Regions from separate parts of the Homo sapiens genome. Here regions 1, 2 and 3 are each reported to be linked to region 4. The links are microRNA targets in miRTarBase. Many come from high-throughput screens and were not tested one by one. Region 4 holds a microRNA gene; each other region holds the end of a gene's coding sequence.
Evidence for each region. Region 4 holds the annotated microRNA hsa-miR-514b-5p (UUCUCAAGAGGGAGGCAAUCAU, at 1,613-1,634, opposite strand). A microRNA usually pairs through its seed, bases 2 to 8, with sites in the 3' UTR of a target mRNA and lowers its output. Matches are read on the target gene's strand: a 7mer-m8 pairs with bases 2 to 8, a 7mer-A1 pairs with bases 2 to 7 and ends in A, and an 8mer does both.

Region 1: the mRNA of CCDC121 is a reported target of hsa-miR-514b-5p. Seed matches in the 3' UTR shown: 7mer-A1 at 2,959-2,965.
Region 2: the mRNA of TMEM92 is a reported target of hsa-miR-514b-5p. Seed matches in the 3' UTR shown: 7mer-A1 at 2,286-2,292.
Region 3: miRTarBase lists GMNN as a target of hsa-miR-514b-5p. Seed matches in the 3' UTR shown: 7mer-A1 at 3,811-3,817.

Annotation. Positions count from the first base shown.
Region 1 is chr2:27,623,396-27,627,618 of GRCh38, forward strand. CCDC121 (coiled-coil domain containing 121) reads right to left here. Exons shown (of 2, transcript NM_024584.5): 2 at 2,243-4,223. The coding sequence ends at 3,568. Among named protein-coding and RNA genes, the nearest start is that of CCDC121, 3.5 kb to the right of the region's middle.
Region 2 is chr17:50,278,726-50,282,725 of GRCh38, forward strand. It overlaps TMEM92 (transmembrane protein 92), which reads left to right. Exons shown (of 5, transcript NM_153229.3): 4 at 76-271; 5 at 470-2,760. The coding sequence ends at 583. It overlaps TMEM92-AS1 (TMEM92 antisense RNA 1), which reads right to left. Exons shown (of 4, transcript NR_125805.1): 3 at 3,743-3,826; 4 at 2,854-3,151. Among named protein-coding and RNA genes, the nearest start is that of TMEM92, 6.3 kb to the left of the region's middle.
Region 3 is chr6:24,785,437-24,789,636 of GRCh38, reverse strand. It overlaps GMNN (geminin DNA replication inhibitor), which reads right to left. Exons shown (of 7, transcript NM_015895.5): 7 at 3,538-3,999. The coding sequence ends at 3,838. Among named protein-coding and RNA genes, the nearest start is that of ARMH2, 11 kb to the left of the region's middle.
Region 4 is chrX:147,248,585-147,252,807 of GRCh38, forward strand. MIR514B (microRNA 514b) reads right to left here and starts at 1,646; the gene lies at 1,567-1,646. The region is part of intron 2 of LOC105373347 (periphilin-1); the gene reads left to right.

The sequences.
Region 1 (4,223 bases), not on the chromosome of region 4:
TTTAAAGTTTTTTTAAAAAAAATTCATTAGACTAACAAACTAAGTTTGACAGTATTATGAACTTTCATACATGGTTTGGAATGCAAATTGGTACAATCACTTCAAAAGTGATTTGGCAGTATCTAGCAGAGTTGAAGATATGTACCCGAAGACTTAGCAGTTTCTCTCCTGGGTATACACAGAGTAACTCCTTTTGTCTAGGCGTACCAAGAGACACAAAAAAGAATGATTATTGCAGTACAGTTTACAGTAGAGAAATACTGAAAACAAGTATCAGAGATCTACTTTCACCTTTGCAAATTATGGGATTATAGAACAAATGGCTAGACTGTATATTTCCTAGTTATCCCCCTTCCCTCCACTCTCTCTAGTGAAGGAGAAGCCAGCTAACTCCTCTCCCATGGAATGTGAGTGGAGTGATGAATGCCACTTGCAGGTTAGAACTTTTGAGTGGGTGTACCTCCAAGCTTTCTTTACCCTTCTTCTGGCTAAATGCAGATGATGATGGGGCCCTAGGAGATGGAAGAACACAAAATGGAAGATATCTTGACCCCCTGAATCACCTGTTGAAGGAGAGCCACTTGCCAACCAGGAACATGTATCTGAGACTATTAAGTGAGCAAGAAATAAATGTCTGTTATTTGAGACATTATACATTCTTGGGTCTCTTTGTTAGCCTACTCTAATACACAATAATTATCCATTATCAGAATGGATAAATTGTGATATAGTCATACAGTAGAATACTATACAAGCTATAAAATTGAGTAGGGTTTCTCGTATCATCATGAATATGTCTCAATGTCTGGGGCCAGGCACAGTGGCTCACACCTGTAATCCTAACGTTTTGGGAGGCTGAGGCTGGAGGATCGCTTGAGCTCAGGAGTTCTAGACCAACCTGGGCAATGTGATGAAATCTCATCTCTACAAAAAAATTAAAAAAATTAGCTGGGCATTGTGGTGTGCACCTATAGTCCCAGCTAGTTGGGAGGCCGAGATGGGAGGACTTCTTGGGTCCAGGAGGTCAAGATGCTGCTATGAGCTGTGATCACACTACTGCACTCCAGCCTGCGTGACACAGTGAGACCGTCTAAAAAAATACAAAGAATATTCTGCACATCTCCTTAAAAGAGAACATTTTAGAAATTTACTCTTGCTTCATCTCTCTCTTCTTATAGCAAATCCATTAGCAAGTCCTGCCTACCACCAACTACATTTTGAATCTGTTCACTCTACTTCTGCCATTCCAATCTAAGCCATCATTACCTCTTGCCTAGACTACAGTATCTTCGTAATTGGTTTCCTTCCACTTTTTTCTGGCTTGGATACACTCCACATAACAGTTGTAGTTTTTAAAATTAGGTAAATCAGACCTCATTCACCTGCTAAAGGCCCTCGGTGCCTAAACTCCTGCTAGCCTTAATAGCCTCATCTTCCTTTCCTCCACTCATGTTCTGTGACCATTCCTCAACTATACTTTACATACACACCTTTCTGTTCCTTGAACCTACCAAGCTTATTGCCATCTTAAGGCATTTGCATTCACTGTTGCCTCTGCCTAGAATAGTTTCTTCCCCAGTTTTTGCATTGTAGGCTTCATTTTAGCAATCATAGGTCTTAAATTTCACCTCAGAGGTCTTTTCCATCTAAACTCACTTTCTGTAACATAACCCTGTGTAATTTTCTAAATAGCAAAGCAGACAAAATGCAGATTGAAATCTTAGTTGGCCAACTTGCTGCTTACTTAGAGGTATGGATTTCAAGGTATGAAATCAGTTATCATTCAACTTTTAATGTCTTCAAGCCCTCACTCTGGAAGGGACAGCCACAAGCAGTATACCATATCCATTACCTGGGATGATAAGTAAAAATGAACTGAGATCAGGTGGAAGTTACCCACTCTTGAATTAGATAATTGGGACACCAGTGGCAGGAGGGGAATTAACAGAACTAATATGCTTCCTACTTTCCAACTTTTTATCAGCCTTAGAAATACATTGTCTTAGGGTTTTTACGTCCACAGAGACTAAGCCTTCAAGTTTGTCTTGGATACCATGCTTTCCTTGTTCAGTGTTTCTGTATTTTCAGCTCACAAATTGAGATTTAGGTTAAAGTACCTGTATGCTAAAATCCTAATTTCTGCATTAAAACTAGTTTTTATTATTTGCACATGTGAATAAGACATTTAAGAGTGGTAACAGAAGAGTGATGAAGTAGAAAATGTGTTACATTGGAACAGTAATAAAATCAGTGGATAAATGTTTTTATTTAATAACATTGTTTAATAAAAAACTACATATTTAACAGAAAAGTTGTTAAAGCTACAAGGTAAAGGCACATTGAAGGAGAATGCTTTTTAAATCCAATTTTCAGGGAATTCACTTTACATGTAAATAAAGCAGAAAATGCAGGAAAATTATTTTGAAGTTTTTCATCACTTAACAATTTCTGGGAAACAAAGTTCATCCTATTTTCCCATAGAGGACCCCTGTTAAAATATAAGATTATATTCCCCTATACTAGGATTCAGCATTCAAATAAATCACTAGTCCAACTTCAATGTCGTAGAACCCAAAAAAAATATAACTATCCTAAAAATATATAATTTAAAATATAATTTATAGTTATACTAAATGGGAATAAACATATGGCACACATTAATTACAAAGGATACTTCATGTACTAGAAAGTGCACCTGTAAGAAAATTAATAAATGACCTAAAACTAAAGCATTTAGGATAACAAACATCATTTTACTTGCTATCTTTTAGAATGCTGCTAGGGAAATCGATGGCACTTAAAAAAAAAGTTGTCCAAATATTTCAACTTTTTTTGGATACGTTTTCCTGAAATAAGTGGAGGCATTCAGTCACCTCAATGCTACAGGTGTTTCTTCAAATAAAACATTTTCAAAAGTAAGAGCTGACCTAATATATGTCTCCTTCATCTTTTCTTACCTTCTCAAACTTGTAGGGGCTTAGCATCAGATGAAAGGTCACTCTGCCTAGCACTTACTGGACTTGCTGTTATCAGAATGCTTTTTCACTCATGAGAAAACTAGAAGGAGCTACCTGGTCACTGGCACAAACTCACAAAGAGCTTGTAAAAACTGCTTTTGTCTGCTAAGTTGGTCAAAAGGAATGAGGATAAACTGGCAGAACGCTATTCAAAGTCTATTTGGAATGCTATCCTTAAAGGTACTTTCTCTATAAAGAAATACAATTTAGCTAGATGAAATAAATCACAACTGTTTTCACTTCCTTAGGTTGGTTTCCTTTAGCTAGTTTGATGTATGGTAAATGGCTAGGTTAGGGTCATGTGTTAGGTTAACTGGAGGTTTGTGGAATAGCTTATTAACGAGTATTTAAAGAAAAAGCTAGTTAAGGGAAGCTGGTTACCAAATATCTAGTAGGACTGTTGGATAAAACCATCTAATCCTTCACTCCAACACATCATGATGGAGATTTTACAATAGCAATCTGGAATCCAACAGCCTTTCTAACCAGGTTAATGTAGCACTTAAGAGTACTTGCTCCAGTTCTTATTTAATCAGTGTTATTTTAGAAGTTACTTTGGATTAATCCTTGATTTGGTGCCTTGGGGAAGACTGGGTGTGGTCTTTGGAACATCCTGTCTATTTAGGCACTGATTATGACTTCCTTGCAGTCTCTGCCTCGCCTGGATTAAGGACTCCAGATACCACTGTTCCTGCTGCAGCTGCTGCTTCCTGTTTTCTAAGTGGCTTTGAGTAGCCGTTAGTTTCTGGGCTTGCTCAATTAGCTGCAGTAATTCCTTCTTGAACTGCTGGTTCTCTCTGTTGATGCCACAGGAGTATTCAAAAATAAACCGCTTTGCTGCCAACTTCAAGGCCTGGGCCTTCATATTAAGCTCTCTTCTTTTTCTCTTTCCCAGTAGCCTCCTGTCTGGCTCGCTCAGTTGTTTCTCCAGTAATCTTTTCTCCTGGAGGAGCTGGGCCTGTACTTCCCGTGTCTTTGAAGCTGTCTCAGCTTGGACTTTCTTTGTCTCCTCCTGTAATGTCTGTATTTCTTTCTCCTGCTTTTCCTTTAATATAGCAATGTCCCTCATTGCCTGCAACTTCCGCTTCAAACTGGATTGGATATTTTCCTTTTGCAAGAGCGCTGTTTTAAGCACTGAAATTTGTTCTGCATATCTGGAGGCTGATTCTTGTCTTCTTCGTTCAATCTCTCCACTTTTTTGTAAAT
Region 2 (4,000 bases), not on the chromosome of region 4:
GCGGGAGCGGGGAGATGTAGGGAGTCCCCAGGGTGGCCTGGGGACTCAGGGTACTCTTGGTGGTCCCCACCCCAGGATCTTCGTCATCATCTTCCTGGTCATCCTGTCCGTCTTTTGCATCTGTGGCCTGGCTAAGTGCTTCTGTCGCAACTGCAGAGAGCCGGAGCCAGACAGCCCAGTGGATTGCCGGGGGCCCCTGGAACTGCCCTCCATCATCCCCCCAGAGAGGGTCAGAGTATCCCTTTCTGCGCCCCCACCCCCCTACAGTGAGGTGGGTGTCTCATCCCCATCCCCACCTTGCCTCTGGCCGGCTGTGCAGCAGAGACAGTGGAGGGCCCTTCGATCCTGGAGGGCACTCTGCACCCAGCATTGGGTCACCCCTCTCCCTGGTAACCATGCCTCAGCTGGGATGGGGGAGTGGTGGCCAGGGCCAGGGCCCAGAAGACTGAATTCTCTCTTTTCCCTGCAGGTGATTCTGAAGCCCAGCCTGGGCCCAACTCCCACAGAGCCACCCCCTCCCTACAGCTTCAGGCCTGAAGAATATACCGGGGATCAGAGGGGCATTGACAACCCGGCCTTCTGAGTCACCTCCTGCCTGGAATCTTGCCATCAGCAACCTCCTCCCCAGTGCCTCCTGGATCAAGCTAGAGACTGCTGGCACCCCAGGAATGTCCCTGCCCATCCTGCCGTGTCTCTGTTCATTCTTGGATTTAACTTATTACTTTTTCTGCTTCTGTTTCCACCCCAGCTGCCTCTCTTGTCCTGAGGGTTAGGCTGGAGTGACAGTTTCCGCCCACCCCCCAGCCCAAGAAAGAGGCTGCCGGAAAGAAAATGCTGACCATTGGAGGTGCCCAACAGTAGAATGGGCTACTGTGAGGGGTAGTAAGAGCCCCATTTCTGGAGGTATGCAAATCTTGACTGGACAGCCAGCTCTGAGATTTTATCAGGGCACTTCTATACCTGTGGGACATTGGACTGGATGAGCCCTGAGCCAGCTTCCACTCCTACCTGAATAGAGAACTCACTGCACCCACCCACAACACATGATAAACACATGTCCTCACTGAATGTTACTGATTGCGGCTGAGGGCCTGCCTCTGGCTGTGTGGGGAGGTGGGTGGAGAGGTGAGCCCAGGCACTGCTGAGGGGTGCGGTGATGGGGTCGCTGCGCCGCAATCCCACCACTGATGAGCCACCTGGGAGGTCTGGGAGGACAGTCCATCCATGGGCCGCCCTCGGAGAGAGGCTTGTTCTAGATGTATTGGCTGTCTGTTTTTTGATGTCTCTGTGTGCCAAACAGCCTGGAAATGGGGTACGCGTGTCCCTTGTGTGGGTTTCCCAATCCCTTCCGCCCAAGGCTTTCCTGGGACACATGGAGCCCAGCTCTCTGGCTGTCTTACCATGAGAAGTTGGTAAGTTGGCTGTGAGGGGGTTGGATCCAGGAAGCAGCCCTGGGACAGCCCATTCTGCTGTTGATAGCAGGAAACCACCTGCTGGGAGACAATGGGGGTGGGGAAAAGCCCAGGAGAGCAGTGGGTGGGGCTGGGCATCCGTGGAGTGGGGCTTTAGGAGACCTTGAACGGCCCCACCCTGGAATCTCCTACAGGAAGGTGAGGAGGTGGCAGGTTCCACCCTTCTCTACCAGCCCCGCTCGCTCGTGGGAGTTAACCCCCTAGGGGAGAAGAGTCTTCACTGGGGTTCGACCCATGGGGGCCTGGCATAGTCATGCAGAATGGGGCGGGACAATGCCAATGCCTTGGGACTCAGACAGGGCTGAGTGCCTCCACCCTGATTTTTGCCTCTGCACTGCGCCCCCACAGCCCACTCAATGCCAGCCTCCTTCTCCAGGCAGAGAGCCCCATGTCAATGCTGGCCAAAGCTCTCAGGAGGATTGGAGGTAGAACTGGCCCTGGTATGCCAACAGGGGTGCCTCTTTTAGTGCTCTCCCAATAATGCTCATCCTGGGGGCATCAGGACGCAGGCAGGTGGCAGAGCTGGGGGCAGCTTGATGGCACAGGCAGCCCCAAAGATGCCAGGAACAGGGACTGTCCGGGTGTGGGTTCCCAGTGAGATAGGGCCCTGGAAGGAGTGCAGCAGTTACTGACAATATAGTGCCAGGGTTGGCCATAGGAGAATGAGCCCAAGCGTAAGTGGAAGTTTCCCTTTACTTTCAGGGATTGGTCAGGGGTGGCAGAAAACATGTGGGTTCTTTGTGTAGATGTGGCTAGTTCCAATTAGAGAAGTCCTGCAGCTGATGTTGCCCTCACCGTGATAGCAGGAGGATGTTGAGAAATGGGCTTGGGAGACCTGGAGGAGAAGTTACCCTCGGCCCAGACGTTGCCTTCCTTTCATCACAGGGCCTTTAACTCCTCCTAGGGAGTAGCAGAGTGGCCCTAGGGAAAGTGGCCATCCTGAAACCTAGTGTTGCTGTGACCTGGTGACAGAAATGGAAACCTCTGTGGCTCTTCTGGTCATCCTTGGTGGGAGTGGGAATGGTGTCACCTTTCTAGAGGGCCATCTGGCACCATGTAATCACGCCACAGATCTTTACGAAGCTCCTGCTATGTAGGAAACACTATGCCTGGCACTGGGTATCCATTAAAATGTAAAATGCACGTGACCTGGCAATTCCACTTCTAGAAATGAGCCTTCAGAAGTGCTCATACAAAAGAGCTCAATAAGTATCATGCACTAATTCATTGTGCCACCAGAGCTCCCTATGCAGCCTTTTAAAAGAATAAATAGGATCTGTAGCACCAACCCTGCAAAGCATCCATCACTTATTGTTACAGAGAAAAGGCAAGTTGCGGAACTGCCTATGATCTCAGTTTGTAAGGATATAACCCACACATATTTTATTTTATATATGTATATTTTTTCTTTGCAAATATGTAGATAAGATCTAGAAGGATGTAAGTCAATCACTCACCACACTTCCAATAGTTGTTGGCCCCAAGAGTGGGATGTAGGTAGCAAATTGCAAGCGGGTCTTCTTCCTTTGTATGCTTTGGCACTGTGTGTTTTTTACAATCAGCAAGCATTGCTTTTGTAAATTTAGAGATTTGTTTACGGGAAACTGTAGGCAGCTTTAGAAGTTTATGAAGATTTGCCTTGTGAACTTTGATCAATGGCAACTGATAAATTATCAGCCCTGGTATGTGGAAGAGAATACAAGGACTTTAGACTGTGGTACCCACCTGACATGGATGTGACCCAGGGGACAGACACATGATGGGAAAGCCTGGATGCCTGCCAGACATACATGAAGCCCACATCTCAGACCTATGCAGGACTTATGAGGTGTATAATGAATGACAGAAACAGTGAGCTGGCTAGTTGGGTGAATGAGCAGTTTCACAGTGACGGAGAATTTCATCCCTCGTGGCTGGTTTAGTTGCTCAAACCCAATGAGTGAATAATGAAAGATGGAATGAATGAATGAAGATTAAATGGGTGCATGAATGAATGAATGAATGAATGAATGAAGAGATCTGCCACCAGATATTTGTAAAGAAACACAGTCTAGTTAACATCAAGGAGATGTTCCTCGTGGCTGTGCAGTTGAATTTCTATCTGCAGGGACTCCCCAGAGGACAGGGAAATGCAGGAAAGGCTGTAGGGTGGGGGGCATGTTGAAGCAGGAAGGCCTTAAGGCACTTGCTCCAGGGATGCAGGAGGGGAGGAGAAAGGGGCTGCTGCTGAGGGAAGTGAGGAGAGGGATAAACACCAGCAGGAATCTTACCTCACCTTCCAGCTGAGATGCAGGACTCCAGCTTCTGACATTTCGCCTTCTGCATCCAACATCTCCAGGCGTTGGTGTGCCCATCTGTACAGTGAAGAGCGTGGCCCCTTCTGGCTCTGGTAGGACGTAGCTCTGAATCCAAAGTTGGGAAGGGGCCCAACACGGTAGCTCATGCCTGTAATCCCAGCACTTTGAGAGGCTGAGGTGGGTAAATCACTTGAGGTCAGGAATTCGAGACCAGCCTGGCCAACATGGTGA
Region 3 (4,200 bases), not on the chromosome of region 4:
GTCCATCCTCATTACCTTCTTTTTTTTTTTTTTTTTTTTTTTTTTGAGATGAGGTTTCGCTCGTTGCCCAGGCTGGAGTGCAAAGACGCGACCTTGGCTCACTGCATCCTCTACCTCCTGGGTTCAAGCAATTCTCCTGCCTCAGCTTCCCAAATAGCTGGGACTACAGGCATGCACCATCACGCCTGGCTAATTTTGTATTTTTAGTAGACAGGTTTTCACCATGTTTGTCAGGCTGGTCCTGAATTCCTGACCTCAGGTGATCTGCCCACCTGGGCCTCCCAAAGTGCTGGGATTACAGGCATAAGCCACCACACCTGGCTGGTCCATCCTCAAATCTTGATATCAGTTATGCTAGCCTTGTAAAATATATTGACAAATTAGTTCAGTCTAATCCAGGCTTCATGCATACTGTTTTTCCAACTGATTCTTATCCATTTGCCATTTCCTTAACGAAGCTCGACTGCATTTTATTAAACCAACTTCAAAGAACTTGTTCTAATGGGCCAGGCTTGATTGACTCCCTGACCCCTTCTCCAAGGTATTTTCATTGACATGTTTTTTGTTTTGTTGAGACAGAGCCTCACTCTGTTGCCGAGGCTGGAGTGCAGTGGCGCAATCTATGCTCACTGCAACTTCTGCCTCCCAGATTCAAGCAATTCTTGTGTGCCTCAGCCTCCCGAAGAGCTGTGACTACAGGTGTGCACCACCACGCCCAACTAATCTTTTGTATTTTTAGTAGACAAAGCATTTTGCCATGTTAGCCAGGCTGATGTTGAACTCCTGTCCTCAAGTGATCTGCCTGCCTCAGCCTCCCAAAGTGTAGGGATTACAGGCGTAGCCATCACACCCGGCTGACATGCTATACTAACATTTGATACCTAATTAAAAATCAGACTCATCTTCCACAGGAAATTCCTACAAATTCTCCATCACTAGGGTCAGTTCCCAGGGACTAGAAGCTTAAAATATGTCCCCCAAAACAGCCCCTACATGACCCTTAGGCAACTACTAATCTGCTTTCTCATTATACTTTGTAGTTTTGTGATTTTAAATAAATAGAAGCATACAGTATGTATTTACCTGGCTTCTTTCACACAACATTGAGATTCGTCCATGTGGCGTGTACCAATTTTTGTCCCCTTTTTATTGCTAAATAGTATTCCACTGTATAGTTATACCATAATTTATCCACTCAGTTACCAATGGATATTTGGGCTATTACAAATAAAGCTATGAAAATGTGTGAACTAGTCTTCATGTGGACATATGCTTTCGTTTCTCTTGGGTAAATACCCAGGGGTGGAATGGCTGAGTCATATAAAATGTGTATGTATAACTTTTAAGGAATTGTTCAACTTTTCCACAGCAGTTGTAGCATTTAGCACTGCCACCACCACTGCAGGAGGGTTTCAGATGTTTCACATCCTTAACACTCGATGGAGTTGTTTTTATTTTTCAAACTTAAAACAATTCTGAAAGGTATGTAGCAGTATCTGGTTGTCATTTAATTTGCACTTCCTTAATGACTAATGTTGAGCATCTTTTCATGCACTTAGTTTCCATCTCATACATACCCTAGTTCTTTATAGATACAAATCCTTTGTTGGCTATGTTCTGCAAATATGTTCCCCCAGTCTGTTCTTGCCTTTTCATTTGCTTGTCTTTCAAAAAGTTTTTAAAATTTACAACGTTTAATTTGAAGTTGATGCTTTTTTGTGTCCTATTTGAGAACTCTCTGCCAAACCCAAAGTCACTAAGAACTTTTCTATATAATCTAGAAGTTTTATGGTTTTAGCTACTACCTTAGTTTTTTAATCCCCTTCAATTCCCTCTCCTTTTGCTCCCCACCATCAAATTCTGGCATTTTACAAAAATACTTTCTATTTGTCAAGTCCCTATTCTACTTACCTATTTTCTTTCTTAACCATGCTAAAGGCCTCTCAACTGAGTCTCCTCATGCTCTAATCCAGAATATTCTTCAATTCCTTTAAAATTAATTTACCTATTAATCCTATCTTTAGGCTAGTGATCCACACCTGAAACACACAGAGCCACACTAACGTAATTGCCACTAGCTTCTTGTAGTGACTTAAATTAAAATGTCCATACCTCATTCACACTAGCCACACTTCAAGTGCTAAACAGCCACACAGAAATGGCTACCATACTGTACAGCAGATATTCTCATCATCCCAATAAGTTCTACTGGACAATGTTGTTATAGATTAATAATAGCTTCCATTTTTAAGACACTTAGCCTAGACACTAAAGGTTTTAATCTTCACGATAACACTATGAGGTAGGCTTTATCTCAGTATTAAAGAAAATTAAGGCCAGGCACGGTGGCTCACGCCTGTAATCCCAACACTCTGGAGGCCGAAGCAGGCGGATCGCTTGATGCCAGGAATTCAAGACCAGCCTGGGCAACATGGCGAAACCCCGTCTATATAAAAAATTAGCCAGGTGTGGTGGCACGCACCTGTAGTCTCAGCTACTTGGGAGGCTGAAGTGGGAAGATGACTTGCGCCCATCAGGTGGAGGCTGAAGTGAGCTGAGATTGCACCCCTGCACTCCCGCCTGGGTGACAGAGAGAGAAAATTAAGGTTCTATAAGGATGCTTACCTAAAACAATCCTTTCAAAAGCTTGAGGCCAGGCGTGGTGCCTCACACCTGTCATCCCAGCACTTTGGGAGGCTGAGGTGGGCGGATCACTTGGGGTCAGGAGTTCGAGACCAGCCTGGCCAACATGGTGAAACCCCGGCTCTACTAAAAATACAAAAACTAGCCAGGTGTGGTGGCAGGCACCTGTAATCGCAGCTACTCAGGAGGCTGAGGCAGAATCACTTGAACCAGGGAGGCAGAGGTTGCAGTGAGCCAAGATCATGCCATTGCACTCCAGCCTGGGCAACAAGAGCAAGACTCCGTCTCAAAGGAAAAAAAATAAAAGCATGACATTGCTCTTTATTGCCAATTTATACAAAACTACTTGTATGCCTCTCACAGAACTTTTTCAGTTCCAATGCTACATACCCCTAGTTTGTACTTTTCCTCCTTCAAAACTTAGTATATATGGGAAATCCCTAATGAATCTGACCCTACTCTTATTCTTCAATATTTACATACTTTGCACTATACCAATATGTGAAATAGAAAAGCTCCATAATTTTCAGCTATTCCTGATTTTTTCCGTCAAACTTCTACCCACTCCTCACTTTGTTTCTTGAGGATTATCACCATCATCCATCATTTTAAGCTTCCAAGAAGAGTCTGATCCTGCTAGCCAGTTGGGCCTCTCACTGTCTAATCAGATTCACTTGAAAAGCTTTTGGAAAATAGATTCTCATGCTCCATTCCAAAAACAACTTGTTAATATCAATAGTGTCTACAATGAGCTTGAGGTACAACAAAGTTTGGGAGTTAAAAACCTCAGCTATCTCAGTCTAAATACTTTAAGTTCGTTTTCTCCTTGTCTCCTCCAAGGTAGTTAGCAAAAGAATGGAAAGAGAACAACATAAAAGCATAGAAACAGACAAATTTTCTACACATACTCCTTATATTTCATTATTCTAAGTTATACACAATGTTCAACAGGAGTTTGAAGTTTATTTAGTAATAAACATAAGTCATGGCTGACAACTGAGAAAATCCTATTCACATAAACCATCATAGATTAAAAATACATAGTATTTGTACTTTAATGCAATAGGGTCCCAGGATTCAAACAAGGAAATTTGATTCCAGAGTTGGCATTATGTAGTTATGTACTCTGCTACAAAGAACTAGTGGAGGTAAACTTCGGCAGTAAAATTCTCAACAGTCAAATATTAATGCATTTCATATACATGGCTTTGCATCCGTAGAGGAAGATACAGTTCCTTCAGCACACGTGCCAATTTCTGAGTCTTCCACTAGAGAATCCTCAACAGTTTCTTCTTCAGAATCAAATTCCTGATTATCCAGTGATTCAAAATTATCCAGAGGTTCACCATTCAGTCTCTTTTAAAGAATAAACCAATAATTTATTGTAAAAATGTTAAAACCTAAGCTGATCAGCATACTGATATAGCTGACCCGTATAGCATACTGATATAGCTATGAGATTTTTTTCATCTTGCCCCTCAATAAATTCATTTATAAACAGTATTATATCAAAGTCTCTACCATGCTAGATCATAGTCAGCAAAGTCAAAGTGTTTA
Region 4 (4,223 bases):
CGACGTGAATACTTGTGTGTTTTGTCAGAGCCTCTTTGTTTTGTGAGCAGGGCCATTATCAAAGCTCTACATAAGGAACTGTGAGCTGTGAGCTGAATCAAATGTTTAATACATTCTAGTGCTGGATTTAGAAGAAAAGAAACTAAGGGAGGGCAGTGAGTTGATGTAAAAAAGGGGACACTGTAGAGTGGCTGCCTGGGCTCAAATACAAGCTCTGCTTCTTGATAGCTGTGTGATCATAAGGCATTTATTAAAATTATTTTTCTTGTCTTATTAGTAAAATGAGAGTGGATATAACAGCTCCTACTTCATAAGGTTCTTGTAAAGATTCACTGAATTCCTGTGCATTAAGAGCTTAGAATTCATCACATAAACAGAATAAAAACAAAAACTACATGAACGCTTCTACACTGCTGGTGGGAGTGTAAATTAGTTCAACCATTGTGGAAGACAGTGTGGCAATTCCTCAAAGACCTAGAACCAGAAATAGCATTTGACCCAGCAATCCCATTACTGGGTATATACCCAAAGGATTATCAACTGTTCTATTATAAAGATACATGCACGAGTATGTTCACTGCAGCACTAGTCACAATGGCAAAGACATGGAATTCACCTAAATGCCCATAAATGGTAGACTGGATAAAGAAAATGTGGTACATATGCACCATGAAATACTATGCAGCCATAAAAAAAGAATGAGATCATGTCCTTTACAGGGAAATAGATGGAACTGGAGACCATTACCTTCAGTAAACTAGCACAGGACCAGAAAACCAAATATGGCATGTTCTCATGCATAAGTAAGTGGGAGCTAAATGATGAGAACACATGGACACATAGAGGGGAACAACACACACTGGGACCTATCAAAGGGTGGAAGGTGGGAGGAAGGGTAGGATCGGGAAAAATAACTAATGGATACTAGGCTTAATACCTGGGTGATAAAATAATCTGTACAACAAACCTGCATGACACATGTTTACCTATATAACAAACCTGCACATCCTGCATATGTACAACTGAATTTAAAATAAAAGTTAAAAAAAAGACCAGAAAAGACCAGAAATAATTACCAAAAAAAAAAAAAAAAGGAGCTTTAATACCTGGGAGAAAAAAAATACTTTGGTCTTTAGTAGGGTAAGGATCTGAGAAGGGAGGGAACTGATGGATGCCTAAGGGGAAAATCTTAAAAATGAAGAGGAATGTCGATAGGTGGTAAGTTAAGAGATTTGCAGGCTACGGTTGGGAATAGGTTCTTACAAAAGAAAAAACACTTTATAGGTGACAGGAACACCATGAAGACAGTGAAAGGCTTGTTACCATTTTGGTCAAGCAACTTTGGCAAAAGGGATCTGAATCTCAGAAGAAACTCAATGGGAAGTTTTTCCTCAGACTTTCAGTTTCTAGGTCTTACGTCTGATAATTAATTTAGAGAATTAACTGAGCTAGTCCAGAACAGGGAGGGTGTCAGTAGAAATGTCTGCATTCTAGGGAAAGTATTATACTGCTTGCAACTTAACACGCCCCGTGTATCCACCATGCCATGTCATATGATGTATATATCATGTGTTACTCCACTCACAGAGGTGTCAATCATATCTAATTACACATGATTGCCTCCCTCTTGAGAAGAGTACCACATGAAGAATAGAACACTTAAGGATGGCAGCCCAGCCTAATGACTGACTCATGCACCTTTCTTTTTATATTTTAAAAATATGTAATTGACAAACAAAATTTGTATATATTCAAGGTGTGCAATGTGATTTGATATGTATATACATCGCGTACTGATTACCATAGTAAAATTAACTAACACATCATTCACCGCTCTTAGTTACCATTTGTGTGTGTGTTGTGGGGGTGTGGTGAGGACACTTAAAATCTGCTCTCTTATCAAATTTCCAGTAAACAATTACAGCATTATTATCACTATGCTATACATTAGATAGCCAGAGCTTATCTATTACGTAACTCAAAGTTTGTACTCTTTGACCAACATGCATCTTTCAAAAACACATCATTGTTTTCAATCTGATTGGTGACTGGTGTTCATACAAAGGGCCTCTGTAGCATGCACTACACTGTCTTTCTTCATCCATCCTTTCCTGTGTTGTCCAATCATGGTTTGGAGTTATGACATGGCAATTTTCAGAACTATGAACCATTAAGCTTTTCTGCTAGACTCTCTTGTGCACGGAAGAAAAATCCTTGCATGTCTTATCCTGTTTATTTTTTCCATTATTATAAAGTGTTAGAAAGCAGTTTACATTCCTCAGGTCTAATAGTTAACAGGAAAATATACTCTATGTCATCTATGCTCGTCACCTGAAGATGAGTCCCTCTACCTGAGTTACATCCCTCAACTCCTGAACCACAGAATAAGCAGGGAAAACACACAAGATTCTAGGATAGGATGGTAATCACTGATGTGATGGAGAGTAGAAATGTCTGTTTCTCCTTAAATCCTAGAGCAAAAATAAAAATATTTTACTTACCAGGAATGAACTGCAAAACAGAAAATGTTCTTGGCATCTATGGATGCCATTAAACTTCTTCCAGTTTGTGAGATTTCTGAGTCTTTCCCTCGAGCGTGGTCTTTTCAAGCATTTTTGTTTGCATTTTTCTCCATTTGGAAACATGCAACTATGTGTCTTCATTTTCCTGGATGAACTAAATCTGGGACACCAAAATATAGTAACACAAATATGGTAAATGGATGTCAGAGAACTGGGATGGAAGAAAGAGGTGATTGTAAGTAGCCTAAAATGTGAAGTTGCTACCAGTCAAAAATTATGGTATCTTAATGGAAGAAACAAGTTCCCAGCCTTTCTCATGCACCCTACCCTTAATTTTGTGTTGCTGTGGCTAAGCAACAGGTACAGATGTTAGGGGCACTGTTCGTACACTCAGCTCACTTTCGTAGGGTGTAGGCTTTAGTGTGGTTTTGGCAGGTTGAGAATATGGGGTCTCTGATCATCATCACCCCAGAATAATCATAAAACAGAGTTTCAACCCTGGAATGAGCAGGCTGAGAAGACCAAAATCTACGACTACCAATCTTCACTCTGTACATAAAGCAGGAGTGTTGTGAAAGAAGCAGGTCGCTGCACCTTCCCAAAGCTTGAGAGCAGTGAGTCAGAGATTCTTTTTCCCAGTGTGAGAAGTGAGTTTGAATAAAAGATGGTATTATAGCTCTCCTAAAAAAAAAAATAGGACTTTATTTATAGCAGAGTCAGGGAAAGCTCAGGCTTAACGATGCTCCAGGTAACAACACAGATTTTGGAGGTAAGTAAGTAAGATGGATTTGGTAGCTGTATGAGAGCAACAAGCTAAACCACAGGCCAGCTTATTTACCAGAGTATCCGATAAACTGACAGCTAATAAGAGCCTTCCTGTATCAGAACAAACCTGAAAGACTTGCCTTTAAAACAACGTGTTCCAAGTGGCTTAAATTATTTTGATCAAACTCTGATACGTTTTTCCCTTAAAATTCAAAAAAAACGATAGAGAAAGTCAGCATTCAGTGAGAAAACCTAACATCTCTGTGTGATACACAGAGACCACTAGCTGGACAGAGAGATCAGGAAAAGAAACAAAAAGAATGCTACTAAAATCACTGTCATCTTAGAGTTACTATGTGCATACAAAGGCTGTGCTCTCTAAAGAACAGTATAAGAAAATTCACAGCAGATAAGTAAATAAACTCCAGCCAATTCAATAAACAAATTAAAAACAGACAACAACAACAACAGTAAAAGCCAGGTGCGGTGGCTCACGTCTGTAAAGCCCAGCACTTTGGGAGGCTGAGGTGGGTAGATCACCAGGTCAGGAGATTGAGACCATCCTGGCCAACATGGTGAAACCCCGTCTCTACTAAAAATACAAAAATTAGCTGGGCGCGGTGGCGGGCGCCTGTAGTCCCAGGTACTCAGGAGGCTGAGGCAGGAGAATCGCTTGAACCCAGGAGGCAGAGGTCGCAGTGAGCCGCGATCACGCCACTGCACTCCAACCTGGGTGATAGAGCGAGACTCCATCTCAAAAACAAAACAAAGAAACAAAAAAAATATAATTCCTCAGAGGAAGTGGTTATTATCCAGAATACAATATTTGATCTTAACTATCCTGTTTTACAGAAAATCATAATATGTACAAAAAAAAGATAGTGTAGTCTTTACAGATAACAAAAATATATGACAGAAAATGCCCATGAGAGGGCA